3 linked regions of the Homo sapiens genome follow. The protein of the gene in region 1 interacts with the protein of each later gene in a biochemical or structural test. Each region holds a gene or a part of one and is shown on either strand. Other genes may lie near its edges.

The links.
Region 2: the proteins of RNF144A (region 1) and PARP1 form a complex in vitro, tested with the Homo sapiens proteins (one study listed by BioGRID).
Region 3: the proteins of RNF144A (region 1) and UBE2L3 form a complex in vitro, tested with the Homo sapiens proteins (3 studies listed by BioGRID).

Annotation. Positions count from the first base shown.
Region 1 is NC_000002.12:7,039,412-7,042,045, forward strand, and holds part of RNF144A (E3 ubiquitin-protein ligase RNF144A), read left to right. Parts: intron 1-217; coding exon 218-349; 3' UTR 350-2,634. UniProt on the Homo sapiens protein: E3 ubiquitin-protein ligase which accepts ubiquitin from E2 ubiquitin-conjugating enzymes UBE2L3 and UBE2L6 in the form of a thioester and then directly transfers the ubiquitin to targeted substrates.
Region 2 is NC_000001.11:226,398,094-226,401,593, reverse strand, and holds part of PARP1 (poly [ADP-ribose] polymerase 1), read left to right. Parts: intron 1-3,500. UniProt on the Homo sapiens protein: Poly-ADP-ribosyltransferase that mediates poly-ADP-ribosylation of proteins and plays a key role in DNA repair.
Region 3 is NC_000022.11:21,619,714-21,622,123, forward strand, and holds part of UBE2L3 (ubiquitin-conjugating enzyme E2 L3), read left to right. Parts: intron 1-1,801; coding exon 1,802-1,956; 3' UTR 1,957-2,410. UniProt on the Homo sapiens protein: Ubiquitin-conjugating enzyme E2 that specifically acts with HECT-type and RBR family E3 ubiquitin-protein ligases.

The sequences.
Region 1 (2,634 bases):
TGGATGGGTAGGTGGATGGATGGATAGAGAGATATATGATGGTTAATGGATGAATGAGTAGATGATGACTAGATGGGTAGATGGATGGATGGATAGATGGATGGTTGGGTGGATGGATGGATGGATGGATGGGTAGCTGGTTGTGTGGTTTACACTTTAGCTCTGGAACCTACAGACCAGCCCTCCTTACCTCTACCCCTTTGTTTCTTTCTTCCAGGTTGTGGGCATTTTTGCAGGATTTGGGCTGCTGCTCTTGGTGGCCTCACCTTTCCTACTCCTGGCCACTCCCTTTGTACTTTGCTGCAAGTGCAAGTGCAGTAAAGGTGACGACGACCCGTTACCCACCTAGAGGAAGCGCGATGCTGGAACACATCCCTGCCTCCGGGAAGTGTGGCTCTCCCCCAACCCTCCCCACCGTCCCCCCTTCACTAAACATCTTTCTTGCCTTATGTGCCCCATTGAGCTTCACAGTGTCAGGCTGGACGCCGTGATTTCAGGGACCTATGTCACAATGTTCGCTGAGGCCCCAGGTGTGGTGGGGAGGGGAGGCAGGTGTGGGTAGCGCACATCCCCACAGATCAATCTCTGCAGATGACAGGGAGGTGCTGTGAGAAGTGCACCAGGCAGCTTTCTCTCTGTGGTAGACTAGGCATGTCTGGGGATGGCCTAAGAGACTTTCTGCTCCTTGGCTTCTAGATGGCACCATGTTGTCAGAGAAGTCTTTTAAGGACTGCCACTCTCTTCAGACAGAATCTGATTATTCCAGCTTGAGAGAAGCACTCTGTTTATGACAACTGTTTTTATTACTAATGGCATTTAGTAAAATCCTTTTTAGAAGGTATTTTTTTTCCAACTGAGTAGTGAAAATCAACAAGGTGCATATAAACCATCCTATGCCTTTCTTGAAATGTGCATTTTAAGAAGTTATAGTTAAACGACTTTTCAGGAGATTTAGAAAGCCTTATGCACTCTTTGTGTTTTTCTTGAAACTTGCTGTAGTAACTTTTTGAACGCTGTAAGCTGTGTACTGTTATAAGTGTGCTTCCTATATTGTTGCATTTCCTTGATAATATTGACGTGTTTAAAGGAACATCTCATCTCCATTAGATTTGCCTTTTGTTGTTTTCTCTCTTTGGTGATTCAGCTCAGCTCATGGGCCTCATCCCTTCTCTCCCAGGTAGCAGAAAACGCTTTTTATTGTATTCAATCCCACTGCTTTGCTCGGCAATGGTTCTCCTCCGAATTGCTGCCGTCTGGCCTCTGGCCTCAGTCTTCAGATAGACAGTAAGAAGAAAGCAGCCTCATTGATCCGCAGATGTAGGGGCCTCTTGGCAGAGGCTGGAGGACTCTGGGGGCTAGGGAAGAGCCTGCCAGATTTTCACATTTTTAAAATGTTCTAGTCATTTTGAGAAATCATATATCTTACACAGTTCCAAGTCCTGTTGCTAACCGTTTTGCTCTTGTTGGGGAAAAGAACCTCCCATTTCACTTCGTTTTAACGTGGGGATTTTACCACTTGATCTTTTACAGGGCTGTCTGTGACCATTTCCATGGCAGCAGGATGCAGGGATTAATAAGGACACATACACATTATTCCACCAATTGACTTTGAAAAGTGGAGAAAGTGTATTCTTTAAAGAGAATTTACTTCTAAAAGCCACAGGTGCTTTTACAAAGCAAACTGCATTGAATTTAAAACTTCTAAAAATAACAGGCAAATATTGTAGCTATATTACAGTGGGATTTTAAAAATCTTGTTAAACATTCTATAAAGAAGTAAAACAAAATCCTTTTATCTCAGTTATTTGCCCATCACAAGCACATTTTTAAAATGTTGCTTTGTGTGTGTTTGACTTCTGCATTTGAGTATCAGTCTCAGGTCCTAGTTTACTTTCCCTGGTTGGAAATTTATTTCTTATTTCCTAACATTGAATTCGTTAGAAAAAACAGCGTCACCTCACTCTTCACCTGTCATGTTGATTTTCCTTATGAACCCGAAGCCATTTAGAAAATCCCTGTGTGTCAAAATTACATTCAAAAAGCTCTCCTTGTAATTGCAAGTTTAGTAACTCAGTAAGAACATGCCTGCGACTCCCTTTCTGGATGGAACCTGGGCTGTGGCTCTCTGTCGTTTGTGGTGCTGTGATGGTGTCTACTGTTAGAATAGCTTTTCTGGAGGTGGGTGGCAACTCCACGCGGGAGTCATTGGCTGGGCTTGAGCCCTCAGCCTGTGATATGTGGATGCAGCTGTCCAGCCACTGCCCTTTAACATGCCCAGCACACATGGGAGGCCTGTGGCCCTGTGTCCAGTGGCCCACAGGACACGCCTCCACCATATGCTCATCCTTCCTGCCTGAAATTGCTGCTGCCCATCGCATGAGCCCACACAGTAGCACCCCCGTCCTTAGGATGAGAGTCAGAGCCTTTGGAAAGGCTGCATCCCCAGGGCTAGAGCTCAGATGACCTTATTTCTAGAGGGACAGGCTGTTCTGTTGGAAGAGTCTCTGGCCCAGTCATGCACATCTGTAGCCCCAGCCATCCTTGTGCCTTCACCTCTGATGTGTTTCACAAGCACGTAGTTCAACCCAGATAGGGACCACAGAGATTCTGGGGCCAGCCAGGGGCAGTCAAATT
Region 2 (3,500 bases), on another chromosome or scaffold:
ACAGGGACGAAGCAGCTTTCCATAAAACACCCACCAGTGTGCCATATCAGTTTACCATTGCCATGGCAATACCCGGAAGTTACCACCCCTTTCTGTGACAACAATCTGATGACCTAAAAGTTACCACCCCGTTTCTTAACATGTCTGCATAGTCTGCCCCTTAATTTGCATATAATTAAAAGTGGGTGTAAATATGACTTCAGAACTGCCTTTGAGCTGCTGCTCTCAGCACAGTGCCTGTGGGGTAGCCCTGCTCTGCAGGAGCAGTCACAGAGCCATAACACTGCTGCCTCAATAAAGCTGCTTTCTTCTACCACGAGCTCGCTCTTAAATGCTTTCCAGAGCGAAGCCAAGGACCCGCCCAGGCCAATCCCCAATTTAGGGCTGGCCTGCCCTGCATCAGTTTCACTGCTCTAAAAATCCCCTGTTTATCCCTCCTAATTCCTGACAACCACTGCTCTTTTTACTGTCTCCACAGTTTTCTCCTTTTATGTCTTCTCCCATGTCTTAGTACAGGTCACGTCAGGTGACATAGCAGAGCAGAAAGCAAAGCTATTAAAAGCTTTATTAGGAGAGGTAATCCTAGGGCAGCAAGAGAGAGGGAGGAAGGGGAGGCAGGAGGGCAAGCACAGTGCCATACGCTGTCAAGCTGGCCATGGCTTCATGAGAAACAGCCAATGGCTTGGTCATGCAGGATGCCCTCACGCAAGTCCTTTGCCACTAAGCTTCAGAAAAGCCCCTCGGAGCAGGAGGAAGGGAGCAGCATTATCCATTGGTTCTTTCTGCCTCTTGTTTCTCATTGGTTTTAGCTCGCTGGAGGTGCTGTGGTTCTCTGCACTTCCAGACTGTGTTCCTGGCCTCTGCACAGTCACGCCCTGCAGCCAGAGCTGCCTCTAGATCTGGAAGTGGCGGGAGGACTCTCAGTCCCTGGTTTTGAAAGAGTTGGCCTGTTGGTGACAGTGCTGTGTTTGTTACTGTGGTGGTCACTACAGGGTGGGTATGCCAGGGTGTGGCCCTTACCCTGAGGCAGTGACAGTGCTAGGGAACAAGGCTGTGGCACCAGCAGCCACTGTCAGGTAGCCCACCCTGGGGATACAGATGAACTACATCCAGTACGTGTAATTTTATGGTTCCTTATTTCTTTTAACATCTAAATGTTTACTCTATTTGAGAGTTATCCCGGTGTGTGCTGATGTGTGGTGTGAGGCGTGACTCCAGTTTTATTTTTTTCCAGATGATGATCTAGTTTCCCTACTTTGTTTTTTTGTTGTTGTTTTTGTTTTTGTTTTGTTTTCGAGATGGAGTCTCACTCTGTTGCCCAGGCTGGAGTGCTGTGGCATGGTCTTGGCTCACTGCCACCTCCGCCTCCCGGGTTCAGGCGATTCTCCTGCCTCAGCCTCCCGAGTAGCGTGGTGCCTGCCACCATGCCCAGCTAATTTTTTGTACTTTGTTTATTGGCTTATTCATCTCCCCCATTGAGAGGTGTCTTGTATCATGCACAAAATCTCTGTATTTTGGGGTCCTTTTAAAAATTTCTGTTCCATTGTCTGTTTAACCTTTTTTTATATGTAAACTTTTTTCGTTGTTGTTGGAGACGGATTCTCGCTCTGTCACCCAAGCTGGGGTGCAGTGGTGTGATCTCGGCTCACCGTAAGCTCCGCCTCCCAGGTTCATGACATTCTTCTGTATGTAGACTTTTTTTCTTATAGCAGTTTTAGGTTCACAGCAAAATTGAGTAAAGTACAGAGTTTCCATATACCCGCTAGCCCTACCCACCCCACACATACACAGACTTTTGTCCACAATCAACATCGCCACCAGAGTGGTCCATGGTTATAGCTGATGAGCTACATTGACACATCGTTATCGGAGTGGTCCATGGTTATAACTGATGAGCCACATTGACACATCGTTATCCCTCGAGGTCTGTAGTTTACATGAGGGCTCACTCTTTGCATTGTACATTCTGTCAGTTTTAACAAACATACATTGACATGCATGTACCTTTATGGTAGCCTCCAGAGTCCTTTCACTGCCTGGGAAATCTCTGTGCTTTGCCTAGTCATTCCTCCCTCCCCTCTAACCTCCAGTAACCACTGATCTTTTTGCTTTCTCCATAGTTTTTCCTTTTCCAGAATATAATATAGTTGGAATCATACAGAAGGTAGCCTTTTCAGATTGGCTTCTCTCACTAGCAATGTGCTCTTAAGATTCCTCCATGTCGAGCCGGGCACGGTGGCTCACATCTGTAATCCCAGCACTTTGGGAGGCCGAGCCCAGCAGATTACGAGGTCAGGAGTTCGAGACCAGCCTGGCCAATATGGTGAAACCCTGTCTCTATTAAAAATACAAAAATTAGCCGGTGTGGTGGTGTGCACCTGTAGTCCCAGCTACTCGGGAGGCCGAGACAGGAGAATTGGTTGTACTGGGAGGCGGAGGTTGCAGTGAGCCGAGATCATGCCACTGCACTCCAGCCTGGCAACAGAGCGAAACTCCATCTCAAAAAAAAAAAAAAAAAAAGATTCCTCCATGTCTTGTCGTATTGATAGCTCATTTCTTTTTATTACTGAATAATATTCCATTGTCTGGATTACCACAGTTTGTTTATTCATTGACCTGCTGAAGGACATCTTGATTGCTTCCAAGTTTTGGTGATTATGAACAAAGCTGCTAGAAACACCCACCATGTGCAGGTTTTTATGGGGACATAAGTTTTCAACTCCTTTGGGTAATCAAGGAGTACAATTGCTGGATCATGTGGTAAGAGTATATTTAGTTTTGTAAGAAACTGCCAAGCTGTCTTTCAAAAAGCTGAATCATTTTCCATTCCCACCAGCAATAGATGAGAGTTCGTATCATTATACATCTTTGCCAGCATTTGGTGTTATCATTGTTTTGGATTTTGGCCATTCCAATAGATATATAGTATTTTATTATTGTTTTAATTTGCATTTCCCTAATACTGTAATTATCTTGAACATCTTCTCATACGTTTATTTACCATCTGTATATCTTTGGTGAAATGTCTTTTGCCTGCCCCTACCCCCACTTTTTTTTTTTTTTTTTAAGACTGTCTTGCTCCGTCGCCCAGGCTAGAGTGCAGTGGTGTGATCACAGTTCGCTGCAGCCTTGACCTCTGTCTCCCACCTCAGCCTCTTGAGTAGCTGGGACTACAGGTGCGCACCACCATGCCTGGCTAATTTTTTTAAATTTTTTGTAGAGACAGGGCCCCACCTTGTTGCCCAGACTGGTCTCAAACTCCTGGTTTTGCTCTTTTTAAAATCACATTGTTTGTTTTCTTACTGTTGAGTCCTAAGAGTTCTTGGTATATTTTGGATAACAGCCCTTTGTCATATGTCTTTTGAAAATATTTTTTCTCAGTGTGTGGCTGGTCTTCCGCAGAGCAGAAGTTCTTAATTTTGTGAAGTCTAGTTAATCAGTTACTTCTTTAGTGGATTGGGCTTTTGGTGTTTGTAAAAAGTCATCACCAGACCCAAGGT
Region 3 (2,410 bases), on another chromosome or scaffold:
CAGAGTCTCGCTCTGTTGCCCAAGCTAGAGTGCAGTGGCACGATCTCGGCTCACTGCAACTGCCGTCTCCCGGGTTCAAGCGATTCTCCTGCCTCAGCCTCCTGAGTAGCTGGGACTCTAGGCATGGGCCACCATGCCTGGCTAATTTTTGTATTTTTAGTAGAGACGGGGTTTCACCATGTTGCCCAGGCTGGTCTTGAGCTCCTGACCTCAGGTGATCTGCCTGGCTAGCATTTGCATTTTAATCCATTTCTTGTAATGCTGAATGAACAATATGAGCCCTTAATAAAGGAATTGACCAGGTGCAGTGGCTTCATGCCTGTCATCCTAGCACTTTTGGGAGGATGAGGCGGTAGGATCACTCAAGCCCAGGAGTTTGAGACCAGCCTGGGCAACATAGTGAGACCCCATCTCTACAAAAAACTAGGCCAGGAGCAGTGGCTAACACCCGTAATCCCAACTACTCTCAAGGCCAAGGTGGGAGGATTGTTTGAGCCCAGGAGATAAGACTGCAGTGAGCTGTGATTGCACCACTGTACTCTAGCCTAGGTTAAAAAAAAAAATTAGCTGGACGTGATGGCATGTGCTTGTAGTCTCAGCTACTCAGGAAGCTGAGGCAGGAGGATCATTTACACCCAGGAGTTTGAGGGTACCGTGCAGTAAAGTATGATTGAGCCACTGCACTCCAGTCTGAGTGACAGCAAGACTGTCTAAAAAAAATAAGAAGGAATTTGTGGCATCAGCAGTTCGGAGAAGAGGGGCACTGTTTTACAGTGGGAAGGAACATTCTGAGGGTGCTGGTCCTGACAGGGTCAGGGGGCAACTGTGGCAAAGTATGTGAGGAGGTGTGGGTAGCAGCTGCTTCTGATTCCCCACTATCCTTCCACCCTGGGGCACGTCTGGGCTACGGCACCTAGGGGGAGTACTGTGGCACCCATCAGAGCCATCAGCGTGACATCTGCCTGTGGTCTTGACAATGTGATGCGATGGCGGTTGTCAGCTTCCCATTGGCTGGCCCCAGTGACCCTTTCTAGAGGGTTCAGAAACTCCTAAGGGTCTTCCAGAGTTGGGTCATTGCGCATTGACAAGTGCAGCGCCATCACATACCCTTCTCTCTAGTGCCCACTCAGTCACCTTAACCGAAACTTCCCTGAGCCGAGCATGGTGCTGGGTGCTGGGCTGATGCAGGGAAGTTCTACCCGGTCCTGCCCTGAAGAAAGTGACCCTGTGTGCATGCATGAGAGTGAGCAGTCAGTTCAATACTAGGCCTCCTATCTCCAGAGTACACAAGAGGACTGGATTAGCCGGGCATGGTGGTGCACGACTGTAGTCCTGGCTACTTGGGGGACTGAGGCTGGAGGATTGCTTGAGGTCAACCCAGGAGGTTGAGGCTGCAGTGAGCCAAGATGGTGCCACTGCACTGCAGCCTAGGTGACAGAGTGAGACCCTGTCCCTCCTCCCCAACCCCCCGCCAAGAAAAAAGGGCTGGGAGTGACTGAGGGCTAAGACCTCCCCAGGTGTTAGGTCAGGAAGGCTTCCTGGAGGCGGAAGCACATCACTGTGAACAATTATCCACTGTAGTGTTAGCTATTTGTTGTCCATCAGTGTCTTCTAATCACAGAGGAAAGATGAGTTTTCTGGCAGTCAGAATTTTGGATAAATAGGAGGCAGCTTTGGCTTAAAAGCACATTAGCTGTAAATCAGTTGTAAAGCCAGAGTTTTGTTCCCGGATTAGCTGCCTCTTGCCTGTGCCATTTCTGAGACTGTGTTAACCCCCCATGCCTTGTCCTTCTCTTGGCAGTAATCCAGTCCCTCATAGCACTGGTGAATGACCCCCAGCCTGAGCACCCGCTTCGGGCTGACCTAGCTGAAGAATACTCTAAGGACCGTAAAAAATTCTGTAAGAATGCTGAAGAGTTTACAAAGAAATATGGGGAAAAGCGACCTGTGGACTAAAATCTGCCACGATTGGTTCCAGCAAGTGTGAGCAGAGACCCCGTGCAGTGCATTCAGACACCCCGCAAAGCAGGACTCTGTGGAAATTGACACGTGCCACCGCCTGGCGTTCGCTTGTGGCAGTTACTAACTTTCTACAGTTTTCTTAATCAAAAGTGGTCTAGGTAACCTGTAAAGAAAGGATTAAAAATTTAAGATGTTCTAGTTCTGCTCTCTTTGTTTTAAAAATCACTGCTTCAATCTACTTCAAAAGAATGGTGTTTCTTTTCTTGTCCAATTTTATCCAAAATCTTCAAGTTACATTTAACCCATAAGGTTTAAAAAAAAGGAAAAAAAACGGTTGTGGTTCCCTTTCTTCCCTACCCTTGCCACTCCCACTTTCTGGCACCGAGTTTATTTTTCACTTACTTACTTCCCCAGACCCCGGGCTCGCCTCCACAAAGGAGAAGAGACT